Homo sapiens: one gene and its partner. The protein of the gene in region 1 interacts with the protein of each later gene in a pairwise test. Each region holds a gene or a part of one and is shown on either strand. Other genes may lie near its edges.

Region 1 (4,328 bases):
CCTCTTAATCCGGGATTGCCTACACCATGGCACCATTGTAAAAATCTGGTTAAGTAAACTGTATAATGAGACATAATTGAAGATCGATTGATTTTATTTAGAGATGGGGGTCTCACTGTTATCCCAGGCTGGAGTGCAGTGGTGCAATCATAGCTCACTGCAGCCTCAACCTCCGAGGCTCAAGCGATTCTCCCACCTCGGCCTCCCAAGTAACTGGGACTGTAGGCACATTCTGCCATGCCCAGCTCTTAATATAAACTTTAAAATGTGGCTGGAGATTATAAGGGCCCTAAAGCCTTTGCCTGCTTTGTATTTTCTGCCAACCCCTCATTTCCCAATCTCTGCCAGAACCCCAGCAACTAAAAGAAAGGCGTCCAGTTTTCAGTTGTCAGAATCCCTCACTAAGCAGGATGCTCTGCACAGAGCCCTTTGCTGGGAAATTCCTCTGGTTCCATCTCTCTCCCAATGTTTACTGACCAGGGATCCTTCCTTTCTGCCTTTGTCCTTCCCTCTCTCCAAGGTTCACAGGTAAACCATCCCACCCCAAAGAGCACCAAAGAGGCAGACTGCTACATTTTACTTTATTTTGTTGTAAGGAAAACCAATTGACTAAGTTGTCCCCAAAATGTTAGTGTTCACTGATCAAGAAGGAAATGAGGTCAGAAGGCAAACTTTTCACTTCTTCTCAAACATAAATTGCAAGTATCACAGAAAATTGTAACAACACATGCAACACGGGATGGCTTTCAACACACAGAGAGCCTAAGCAAGAAGAGTGAGTACTGAAGGTCTACAGAGGTCAGACTGGGAGCACTACCACAGGAAGTTTGAATCTATCCACGCAGCTCTTTCCTCCCACAGTCCAGGCTCAACACCTCTTCCTATTCCAAGGTGGCTTATCCATATGCAGAAATCCAGGCTGTTCCATATACATTAATACTTGCCCAGCTGTGTTTCACGAGGCATCTCCATAAGCCAAGCCCCGACTCAAATTCTGTACAGGAAGTTCCCGTTGCTGTCAAAGAACTCTCGGCCCCTCTGCACTACTTTGCTGCTGAAGTTATCTGGCTCCTCTGCCTTCAACTCCTCCAGCTTCTGACCACTTGGCAACGCACCACTGCCAGTTCCTCTGGGGCTCTCAGAATCACTGGAGTACTTCTGCAGCTCTCTTGGATGACCTAGGGGTGCAGCAACAGGCACAAAGCTCTCCTCCAGGTCCTGGATTTCTTTATTTCTTCCCTTCCTTCTCCTTGGTGTATTTGTCCTGTGAGTGTCTGACTCTATCACTTTCAAAGCTGTGCTGTGATTTGGGTCTTTAGATGAGGCTTCATGCCCTGGCATAAGCAAAGAGCCTGATACAGAGTGGCCTGCAGGGAGCAGCTTTGAGGTATTTCCAGAGCCCCGGAGGTGCTGCAGCGAGTGGGCAAGCCCAGCTTTCTTAAGGACTTTTTGATCCTGCTTCAGCTTCTGCTCCAATGTGGGTAAAAACTTGCTTTTTAAAACTCTTCGGATCACATCAGTGCTGACATCAAAGCCTTCAGCCAACCTGGGAACTGACCAGGACTCTGGAAATTCCTCATGTAAATACCTACGGGAAGAAGGAGCAGGTTTGCAAGTTGTGAAGAAGTCTCCTATCAGAACATCTAACTCGCAATACCTATGATAAAGAAGAGGGGTTGAGGCCTGGCATGGTGGCTCACACCTGTAATCCCAGAACTCTGAGAGGCCGAGATAGGCGGATCACTTGAGCCCAGGAGTTCGAGACCAGTGATTCTTGTGCCTGAGCCTCCGAAGTAGCTGGGATTACAGGCATGAGCTACCACGTGGCACAAGAATCACTTGAACCTGGGAGGTGAAGGCTGCGGTGAGCCGAGATTGCACCACTGCACCACTGCACTCCAGCCTGGGCAACAGAGTGAGACTCTCCCAAAAAAACAAAAAAAGAGAGCTTGAAAAACCGCAAATGTAGTCCCTATCTTGTGCTAGCTAAATCTTGTGCTAGTCCCTATCTTGTGCTAGTTAAATGGCTGTGTTCCATTTCTGTGTGTCAACAGCAACACCTGACCACTGTCAGTCAGGTCACTTCATTTCACATCAACTCAGCTCCTCTCACTGACATCTAATACCACAATAGATCCTGGGGACGCAGGAGGACTGACCTTCCCATTACATAGTTTGGGAGTGGGGACAGACAAAATAAATGACATTATGGTAAAGGTTATAGCACAGGATGCAAAGACAGCACCCCAGGAGGGAGACCCAGATATAGGGAATAAGAACACTTATAGCCAGGCCCAGGAATTGCTTCATGAAGTCCAAGCTAGAGTTGGTCTGAAAGGATGAAAGGAGTAATAAGCTGGCAGAAGGGAGGAGAGAAGGAGAGATGAAAGATACTGATGATAAAGTGAAGAGCTTGTGAAATGTAAAGCGGCACATCACCTTTGTTGGGAATAACTCAACTGACAGTGAGGGTAAGAAGTAGATCACACTTAGGGGTCTGGAGTTTATCCCAAGGCAACAGCAAGTCAAGGAAAAATTTTAAGCAGTGGAATGCCACAGATAAATTTTCATTTTGAAGTTCAACCTACAGCCTGGCACAATGGCTCACTCCCAGCACTTTGAGAGGCTGAGGCAGGAGGATTGCTTGAGCCCAGGAGTTCGAGACCAGCCTGGGAAACAGGGAGATCCCATCTCTATTAAAAAAAGAAAAAAAGGAATTCAACCTAGTGGTAGTTTTTCAGTGACAAAAGTATAGGCAGAAAGATTGGTCAAGAGGCTTTTACAGTAATCCAGATAGTCTCGAGTGAGACAGTCAATGGAGCATAGGAGGAAAGTGAGTTGAGAAATATTTTAAGAAAGTCAAATAGTACAACTTGGTACTAAGGGACTAAATATTGGGGGAAGCATCATCAAGGCCAAGATGCAGGATTTTAGCTTGGGTAATCAGTAGGTTATAGGAAAAACAGGAACAGAATGAAGTTGTCAGGGAACAACGATGAATTCTATTTTGTACATGCTGAGTTTGAGGAAACTGTGATATCCAAAACAGAGATGTCTGGTACACAGTTGAATATATGCCTTTAGATTTCAGGAAAAAAAACATGAACTGGAGATGACAGATTTGGAAGTCATAAGCCAATAGCAGGGGTGACTGAGTGGCTAGCATCAGGCAGGGAAATATGCAGAGTGAACTAAAATGACAAGGACAGAACTCTATGAAATAACAATATTTAAGATATAGGAGGTAGAAGAGGAGCCCAGGAAGGAAACTGAGAAAAGCAGCCCTAGAAACAAAGAAAAAAAGATCAGAAGGGAATGGTACCCTGGAGTCAAGGGAGAAGAGAATTTTAAGAAAGCAGTTCACCATGGCACATGTACACCTATATAACAAACCTGCACATTCTGCACATGTACCCCAGAACTTAAAGTAAAATTAAAATAATAAAAATAAAAAAAGGCTGGGTATGGTGGCTCACGCCCGCCTGTAATCCCAGCACTTTTGGGAGGCTAAGGCAGGCAGATCACTTGAGGTCAGGAGTTCAAGACCAGCCTGGCCAACACGCTGAACCCAACCTCTACTAAAAATCCAAAAAAAAAAAAAAAAAAAAAAAAATTAGCCAGGTATAGTGGTGTGCACCTGTAATTCCATCTACTTGGAAGGCTGAGGCACGACAATCACTTGAACCCAGGAGGCAGAGGTTGCAGTGAGCCAAGATCATGCCACTGCACTCCAGCCTGGCAGCAGAATGAGACTCCGTCTCAAAAAAAAAAAAAAAAAAAAAAGAGAGAATCAGTGTCAATCAATAAATAAATAATGGGGGGGGGGGGGTGGGAGAAAGCAGTTTCAGCTGGGTGCAGTAGCTCACACCTGTAATCCTAACACTTTGGGAGGCCAAGGCAGGCAGATCGCTTGAGCTCAGAAACTGGAGACCAGGTTGGGCAACATGGCAAAATCCTGTCTTTATTTAAAATATATATATATATTTTAATTTAAAAGGCAGTTTTTACAAGGGCAAATGCTGCTGAATTATTTAGGACGCTAAGGACTACAAAGTGTCTTTTTGAGCCTAGCACTGAGGAAGTCACTGATGGATTTAAGGAGAGCAGTTTTATTGCAGTGATACAAACAAACAAAGGGTAGGCACCCTGGGAACCAGCTGGGAACAAAAGAATGAGAGAGAGCTTTAGGTTGAGGACAGAGGTCCTTGAGTAATCTTATGCAGGGAGAAATATGACCTAAAGCATACAGAGAATTGGTCCCAGACAAGTGAAGGGCTCCCATTTCCTCTGAAATGGGAGTAGAGTATAAGTTTGAGAGTAGTGGGCAA
Region 2 (7,284 bases), on another chromosome or scaffold:
TCCCCCACTGGTCAAGATTCCATAGGTTGGCAGGGCTTGGGGAGCAAGGCGAATGTTGACATTTCTGGAATTCTTGAGAAAAGGACCCTGAGAAGGAGGTTGCGGCTAAAGAGGGGGAAAGTATGACAAATACTCCATATAGGTTTGGAGGTGATAAGTGTAGGCAAGCACTGGGTAGAAGAACCCACACGCTTCCTGGGTAGAGCCTGGGAAAACAGCAAGCCACAGAGCGGAACAAGGGACTGGGCTGTCTATCTTAGCAGTTGGCCTGGAACAGAATTACTGAGCTTCCTGAAGCCAGAGGGTGTGCAGGGCCAGGAGCTAGAATCTTCCACATGCTCCAAGCCACAGGTCCCCAAATAGGCTTTGTGGAAGTGAAGGAGCCCCTGGCAGACCTTGCATGACCAACTGATGACCAGATGGGGAGGGGATGTCCAGGCAGGTGCGAGCATGGACGGATGATGATAGCCGAGGAACAGAGTCTTACATGACTTAAAGCCACACCCCCACCCGACCGAGCTTAACCCCAGGAAAAGGTCAGGGGGAGACTTTGAATTGACTGAGATTAATTTCTACCACCTGCTGAAACGGGGTTCCTAATAGAAATTACATTCTGTGTTAGAAAAATAAAGTTATGCTTCTTGCAGATTAGAGTTTGTAGGCTGAGTTGTACCTACTATATAAGTAATGAATTAATTTTTTCTTTATGATTTTGTAAAGAAAAGAGAAGAAAGAAATTTCAGTAGAATAGCGCTACATTGCAAGAGAAACGGCACTTGTGATTTTTATCCATTTTCCTTCTAGTCTTTGAATTTAGAAAGCACAAGTCTCTTGCCACAAGTTCAGGTCAAATGACTGCAGCATTTTGAGTGAAACCAATAAAATCTAAGTTCATGGATTGTTCCTTTTGTTTTGTTTTCTCAATTGCTCATTCTCAGGGGTCCATATACAAGGCCATCCATCCCTGGAGACTAAGAACATGGCTCACTGCGAGAGCTAAGGAGTTTTCTGGACAAGAATGGAGGGAGGACTCCCCACCTCCAACAGGCAGTTCTATAAATAACGGCTGCTCCATGGTGGCCCCTGAAATGCAGCATTTCAGCAGCCTTGAAATGACAAAGCCTGGAGAGTAGGAGGGCAGTGGCGACGTTGCTGGGAACAACAGCTGGGACTCCCAGGAGCTGAAGGCTGAAGCCATAGGTAGCCCAGAAACCGAGGAATCCAGAAGCCCTGACTAAACCCACTGGGGCCATCCGACCCAGTCAGGCGGCAAGGGGATGGGCGGGCATGGAGCACAGATGGCCCTGGGGTAATCCTAGTGCCTCTGGTTCAGGGACCTCCAAGCTTGACTCAGCTGTTCTCCTTAATTTCATCATCCCATGGTGCACTGGGCATGCCCGAGGGCTTCTGGGAGCACAGGTAGGGCAAGGGCAATTTGGGAGGGCTGAAGAAGCCTGTGGGGAAAAGAAAAGGGAAGATGGTGACCACATAGGAGGGACAGCGGCCTTTCCAACAGGGGACCCTTGCCAGCCATGGTGAGTAGATGGAATCTGTGCCCATCCTCTGCAAGCCCCTAGCAAACGTGTGACCAGGAAAGAGTCTGAGATCATGTCACATTTCCTGAGATGAGCACGTAGGTAGAAGCTCCTTCCTTTAAGCTTTAGTTCTTACTGGGGATGGAAATTCCATCCAACAAATGTTGATATAGCTTGCTTCCTTCTAAGGGGATTTCCAGCAGGTGGAAATTGAATTGTGAGGGAACAAGTAAATCTTCCCAGAGTGTCTGAAGTCACATCGCAGCCTTAGCTTTTAGCCGGGGCTTTGTCCCTCCCTTCTAGGACAGTCTCCATGACCTCAGCTGAAAATGGGACAAAGTGGGGACCTGTGAGTCCTTACACTTGCAGTTTTCACAGGGCTGCTCAGCTTTGAGCTTGGCCACTCCCATCCTCAGGGTGTCCCAATCTGAGATCCAGGAAATCAGGAAGACTAAGAGGCTGGTGTCATGGCCCAGGGCAGAGCCTACCTGAATCATAGCTGAACCAGCAAATGGGGGTGGGGGAAGATGAAGGCTGAGTTCTCCAGTTCCCTTCATTGGCTTCCAGGTGTGCAGGTGGCTTGGGATTGAGGACTCAGATCTTCTCAGGCCCCGAGGGCATCGATGCCAGCAGGGCTGAGCACCAGTGCCTGAAGGATGTCGGAGAGGGAGACCACGCCCAAGAGATGCTGGGTCTCGTCCACTAGCACCAGCCTGTGTACCTGTGGGTCCGCAATGTTCAGTGAGGGGGCAGAGCCATGGGGCTACAGCAGCTACTGAGGTTGGTGCCAAGAATCAGGGGAAACAACCCAACATGACTGAGGGAGAGAGCGTCTCCTAGAAACCAGTTAGGGATGGTGTGACCGGCCTAAGGTGATCAGTTGGCAGTGACCCCTGGCATAAGGGCCCCATGGACAGGACCAGGTGCAGGCCAGTGTGGGCACCAGGAGTTGGTCATGAAATGGAAGGATAGGCCAGGTGCCCGATGTTCAGGGATGGCTGGAGCCGTGCATGAGAAGGACTGGGCTATATGTGTTGGGGGCATGAATGGAGGGCACACGGTACCTGCTCCCGAGCAATCCTGTCGATCACTTCCCCCAAGCTCTCGTGGGGCTGGCAGGAAAGGACTCCCTCCAGACATAGTGTCCTCTGCCTCAGGGCTTCTCCCACACTCATGTCCAGGTGGTTGTAGGTTTGCTGGGCAGCCAGGTGCTGGGGCAGAGAGAGAAGTATGGCTCCTAGTCACCCCCTTGCCTGGGCTCCTACCCTACAGATGTCAACCCCTGCATACTTGTCAAGGTCCCCCTGGTCCACAGAGGCCCCCCACCCATCCCCACACCCTTAGCCTCCCTGCAGCATCCCACCTTTCCAGCGACACTTACAATCACATCAAAGCGGGAATAGAGGCCCACGACCTGACCTGCAGAGGGTGGTTGTGGGGGGTGGGGGGAGAAAGACAGGGAAGAGGCTCCGGTCAGAACCGGGGTGCTGTGTAGAGGGCCTAGGGCTATTTGCATCAGGGTGCCACTACCAGAACCCAAGGATCAAACTTAGCATCCCAGAGTGAGACAGCCTGACATTGAGCATCCTGAGGAAATGCAGTGTGAGTAACATGGCACCACCTACAAAATAGTCTAGCCTCGAATTTATTGCCCAAATCTCTTCAAGCCTTTAGATATAATTTCAGTTTACAGGAAACCCAGGAATAGAGAACAAAGTAAAGGCCAGCTCTAGAAAGCAAACAGACAAATCTGGATGTGGGGTATCCTATAGGACAACTGACCCAGGCTTTTCAACTCACCCACGTCATAACAATTTAGGGGGAATGGAGCTGTTATAGATTTAAAGAGATTTAAGGAACAAAAGACACGAATGTAAACCATGGACTTCAATTGGATCCTGTTTTGAACACATCAACTATGAAAAATACATTCCCTTGGGAGGCCGAGGTGGGTGGATCACAAGGTCAGGAGTTCAAAACCAGCCTGGCCAACATAGTGAAACCCCATCTCTACTAAAGATACAAAAAATTAGCCAGGTGTGATGGCACGCACCTGTAAACCCAGCTATTTGGGCGGCTGAGGCAGGAGAATTGCTTGAATCTGGGAGGTGGAGGTTGCAGTGAGCCAAGATTGCACCATTGCATTCTAGCCCAGGCGACAGAGCAAGACTCTGTCTCAAAAAAAAAAAAAAAAAAAATTCTTGGCCGGTCGCGGTGGCTCATGCCTGTAATCCCAACACTTTGGGAGGCCAAGACAGGTGGATCACTTGAGGTCAGGAGTTGGAGACTGGCCTGGCCTATATGGTGAAACCTCATCTCTACTAAAAATACCCCCCAAAAATTAGCTGGGCGTGGTGTCATTTGCCTGTAATCCCAGCTACTCAGGAGGCTGAGGCACAAGAATCACTTGAACTCGGGAGGCAGAGGTTGCAGTGAGCCGAGATGGCACCACTGCACTTTAGCCTGAGTGACAGAGGGAGACTCCATCCCAAAACAACACCCAAAATACCCAACATTCTTGAGGAAATGGAGAAGTGAGAATAAGGATTGGATGTCAGACAATAATATGAATTATTCATGGTTTTGTTTGGTGGTATAAAATGCACTTTTTTTTTTTTTTTTTGGAGTCTCGCTCTGTTGCCAGGCTGGAGTACAGTGGCGCGATCTTGGCTCACTGCAACCTCTGCCTCCCAGGTTCAACCGATTCTCCTACCTCAGCCTCCTAAGTAGCTGGGACTAGAGGTGTGCGCCACCATGCCCAGCTAATTTTTTTTTGTAGTTTTAGTAGAGATGGGGTTTCATCATATTGGCCAGGATAGTCTCGATCTCTTGACCTCGTGATCCGCCCACCTTGGCCTCCCAAAGTGCTGGGATTACAGGCATGAGCCACCGCCCCTGGCCAAAAATACACTTGTTTTAAGAAGTGCAGACTAAAGTGTTTAGGGGTGAAATGACATGATGTCTGTAATTTACTTTGAATTACTTCAGAGAAAAAGATGAACTGGTTATGGCAATATAGTAACAGTAGTTAATCTAGGCAATGGATATAGGTGGTTCATTATGCAATTTCTTTCTACCATTTCTATACATTTGAAGTTTTTTATAATCAAAAATAAATTGAAAACACTTCTTGATATCTATCTTAATTATGGTGATTTTAGCTTTGAAATATTTCATAGCCATCATTCAACCAAAGAAATAATCTTGTCATTTCTGCAGCCCTTTTTCAGTGTAGGAAATTGAGGGCTGGCTGGGGGCCCGAGGTCCCATGGCACATTTAATTTTTTAAATTTTATTATTTCGTTATTATTATTTTAGAGACAGGGTCTTGCTCTGTTGCCCAGGTTGGAGTGTCACTGTATGTAAACTCAAACTCCTGGCCTCAAGCGACCTTCTCGCTCTGGCCTCTCTCAAAGGGCTGGCATTACAGCCATGCACCACGTGTCCGGCTCCATTTTAAGATGAACTGAAACTAAAATCTGCTGCTTCCTCTCGCTATGCCCATTTTCATGCACATAACCTTTTAAATCCTCCTGTGAAGTCAGAAAGATGAGTGTTGTGAAGAATCCCATTTCACAAAGGAGGAAACTGAGGCACAGAGAGGCTAAGCAACTTGCCCAAGTCTCAGAGTAGACGGAGACTTCTAATCCCCAGTCCATCCTGTACCCCCCACAGGGATGGCATGAGAAACCCTGCCCTTCCCATATTCTCCCCACCAGGTTCTCCCAGGCCCCAGCCCAGCCCGAGCCTCTCATCCTGGGGGTGGGTACCACATTCGTTGACCACAGGCAGTGCAGACACACGCCGGTCCACAAAGATGTCCAGTGCAGTCAGGATGGGTGCTGTCTCCAGCACCACAGCCAAGTCTCGGAATGTGCCGATGCCCAAATCTTGGATAGTGCGGTAGAGGAAGGAGGGCCGGGGCAGCAGGGAACCCTGGTTAGGATGGGGACCAGGTGGAGATCAGGGATCCAGCAGCTTCAAGAGGGCTCCCAGCTCTTCCCCACGACTGCTAGGGCTGAAGACTCCTCAGGCCCTCTGATCACCTGCCCAGGTCTCCCCCTTCCTCCCACCTGGGCCCAGGCTTACAAAGATGTGCAGGAACTTGAGCAGGCGTTTGTGTGTGAGGATGTGGAGTACGTTGCCTGACACCGGGTCAAGAACAGGCAGGCGATGGATCCGGTTCTTGATGAGGGTGTAGACAGCTTCAAACAGGCTGCAGAGATGGGAGCAGTGAGCCTCGGGGCAGCCTAGGGAGAGACAACCTCCATCCCAGGCCCCTAAAAAGGAGGGCAGGGCACCAAGGCTCCCTTGTCTGTGTGCCGCCTAGGATGAAGAGGTGAGTTCAGAGCTGAGTGGGACTGGGGAAGGGGACTGTGGGAGGAGGAGGCTCAGGTGAATGAGCAGAGACACCCACCTATCATTAGGAGAGATGGAGACCAGAGGCTTGAAGCAGCCTTGCAGGTAGATCTCTGCAGAAAGAGCCAGAGTCAGGCCAGGGGAGCCGGTCACCTGCCTCACCTTGCAGTCCCAGGCAGCTTCCCTTCCGTCAGGCACCCGAGGCTCCTATTGTCCCTCCCCTGTTCACTCCAGGACATCCCCACTGCCCATCCTCCACCTTAAGCCCTGGCCCACCATCACCAACAGCCCTTTCCGGGTTCCTCTCCCCACTCACCCCTCCAGGTCTCAATCTTATGTTGTTCAATCTCATAGATCTGGACCTAGAGACATCGACAGGACTCCAGAAGTCAGAAAGACGTGGGCTTCTAGGGCACCAGGCTCCAGGAGGACTCCCCTCCGCCCCCGCCCCTCTGGGTGCCCATAAGATTCCCAGCCCACTCCTCACCAGGGGGGACCTGTAGTAGCGATGCAGCACCAGGATGAAGTCAGTGATGGTCAGCATCCCTGCAGGGAGGGGCGGGGAGGAGGTCAGCCCGGGGCCTTTGGGTGGAAGGCAGGTTGAGGGTCAGATCCCCTCCCCACCCTGCCAGTGTCCTTGTGCTGAGACACAGTGGGGACTGTGGGAACAGGACAGTGGGGCAGCCCCCCAGGCCTGAGAAGTGGGGCTCTTTCTCTCCTGCCTCCCCCCATTTGCTCCCTAGCACCTATGGCACAGGGCCATGCAGTAGCGGAGGTGAAAGGTGTCAGCTGGTCATAGCGGCTCCACAGATGGGGAAATTGAGCCCCAGGGTCTCCCAGCTGGCCATGCAGACTCCGGATGGACTTTCCTCCACCCTGGCCCCTGGCTGGGCTTGGCCTGAAGCCAAGCTTGTGGTATATCAGAGATCAGCCCCAGAACAACCGTACAAGATCTCCCCCTCACCTCCTCCATCTCCCTTCACCTCCCCAGCCTCTCCTCACCCACAAAGCTCTGCTTCTTGCTGTCCCATAGAGGGGCTGCCCGCACACCGTTGGCCACCAGAGCAAAGAAGGCCTTCTTGATCTGAGGGGCCAGGGAGAACAGTCAAGGGTGGGTCCCGAGAGACCCTCACCCCCCTCTCTGCCCCTCAGTGCGCACCTCCCATCTGCCTGCTGTCCCCTCCCTGTCCCACCCAGGGTTCTTCCATGGGGCCTTCTCCTGGACCCTCCTCTACACCAGCTGGCCTGTCTTCCTCATGTCACAGTACACGCTAGACATGATCGTTGCTGGGGACATGTACATAGATAAGGCTGTGGCCTGAGACCATGAGCCCCTCACCTGGCACACCAGGGAGTGAGAAATTCTAAGTTCATGTTTCCATTTGGAGGG

What was found.
Region 2: the proteins of NGRN (region 1) and PRKAG3 interact in a two-hybrid assay, tested with the Homo sapiens proteins (one study listed by BioGRID).

What each region holds. Positions count from the first base shown.
Region 1 is NC_000015.10:90,268,448-90,272,775, reverse strand, and holds the end of NGRN (neugrin precursor), read right to left. Parts: intron 1,589-4,328; coding exon 988-1,588; 3' UTR 565-987; downstream 1-564. UniProt on the Homo sapiens protein: Plays an essential role in mitochondrial ribosome biogenesis.
Region 2 is NC_000002.12:218,821,623-218,828,906, forward strand, and holds the end of PRKAG3 (5'-AMP-activated protein kinase subunit gamma-3), read right to left. Parts: intron 6,979-7,284; coding exon 6,897-6,978; intron 6,441-6,896; coding exon 6,382-6,440; intron 6,257-6,381; coding exon 6,211-6,256; intron 6,008-6,210; coding exon 5,953-6,007; intron 5,752-5,952; coding exon 5,625-5,751; intron 5,472-5,624; coding exon 5,306-5,471; intron 2,955-5,305; coding exon 2,917-2,954; intron 2,747-2,916; coding exon 2,600-2,746; intron 2,257-2,599; coding exon 2,140-2,256; 3' UTR 2,024-2,139; intron 1,533-2,023; exon of another isoform or gene 1,468-1,532; intron 1,455-1,467; 3' UTR 686-1,454; downstream 1-685. UniProt on the Homo sapiens protein: AMP/ATP-binding subunit of AMP-activated protein kinase (AMPK), an energy sensor protein kinase that plays a key role in regulating cellular energy metabolism.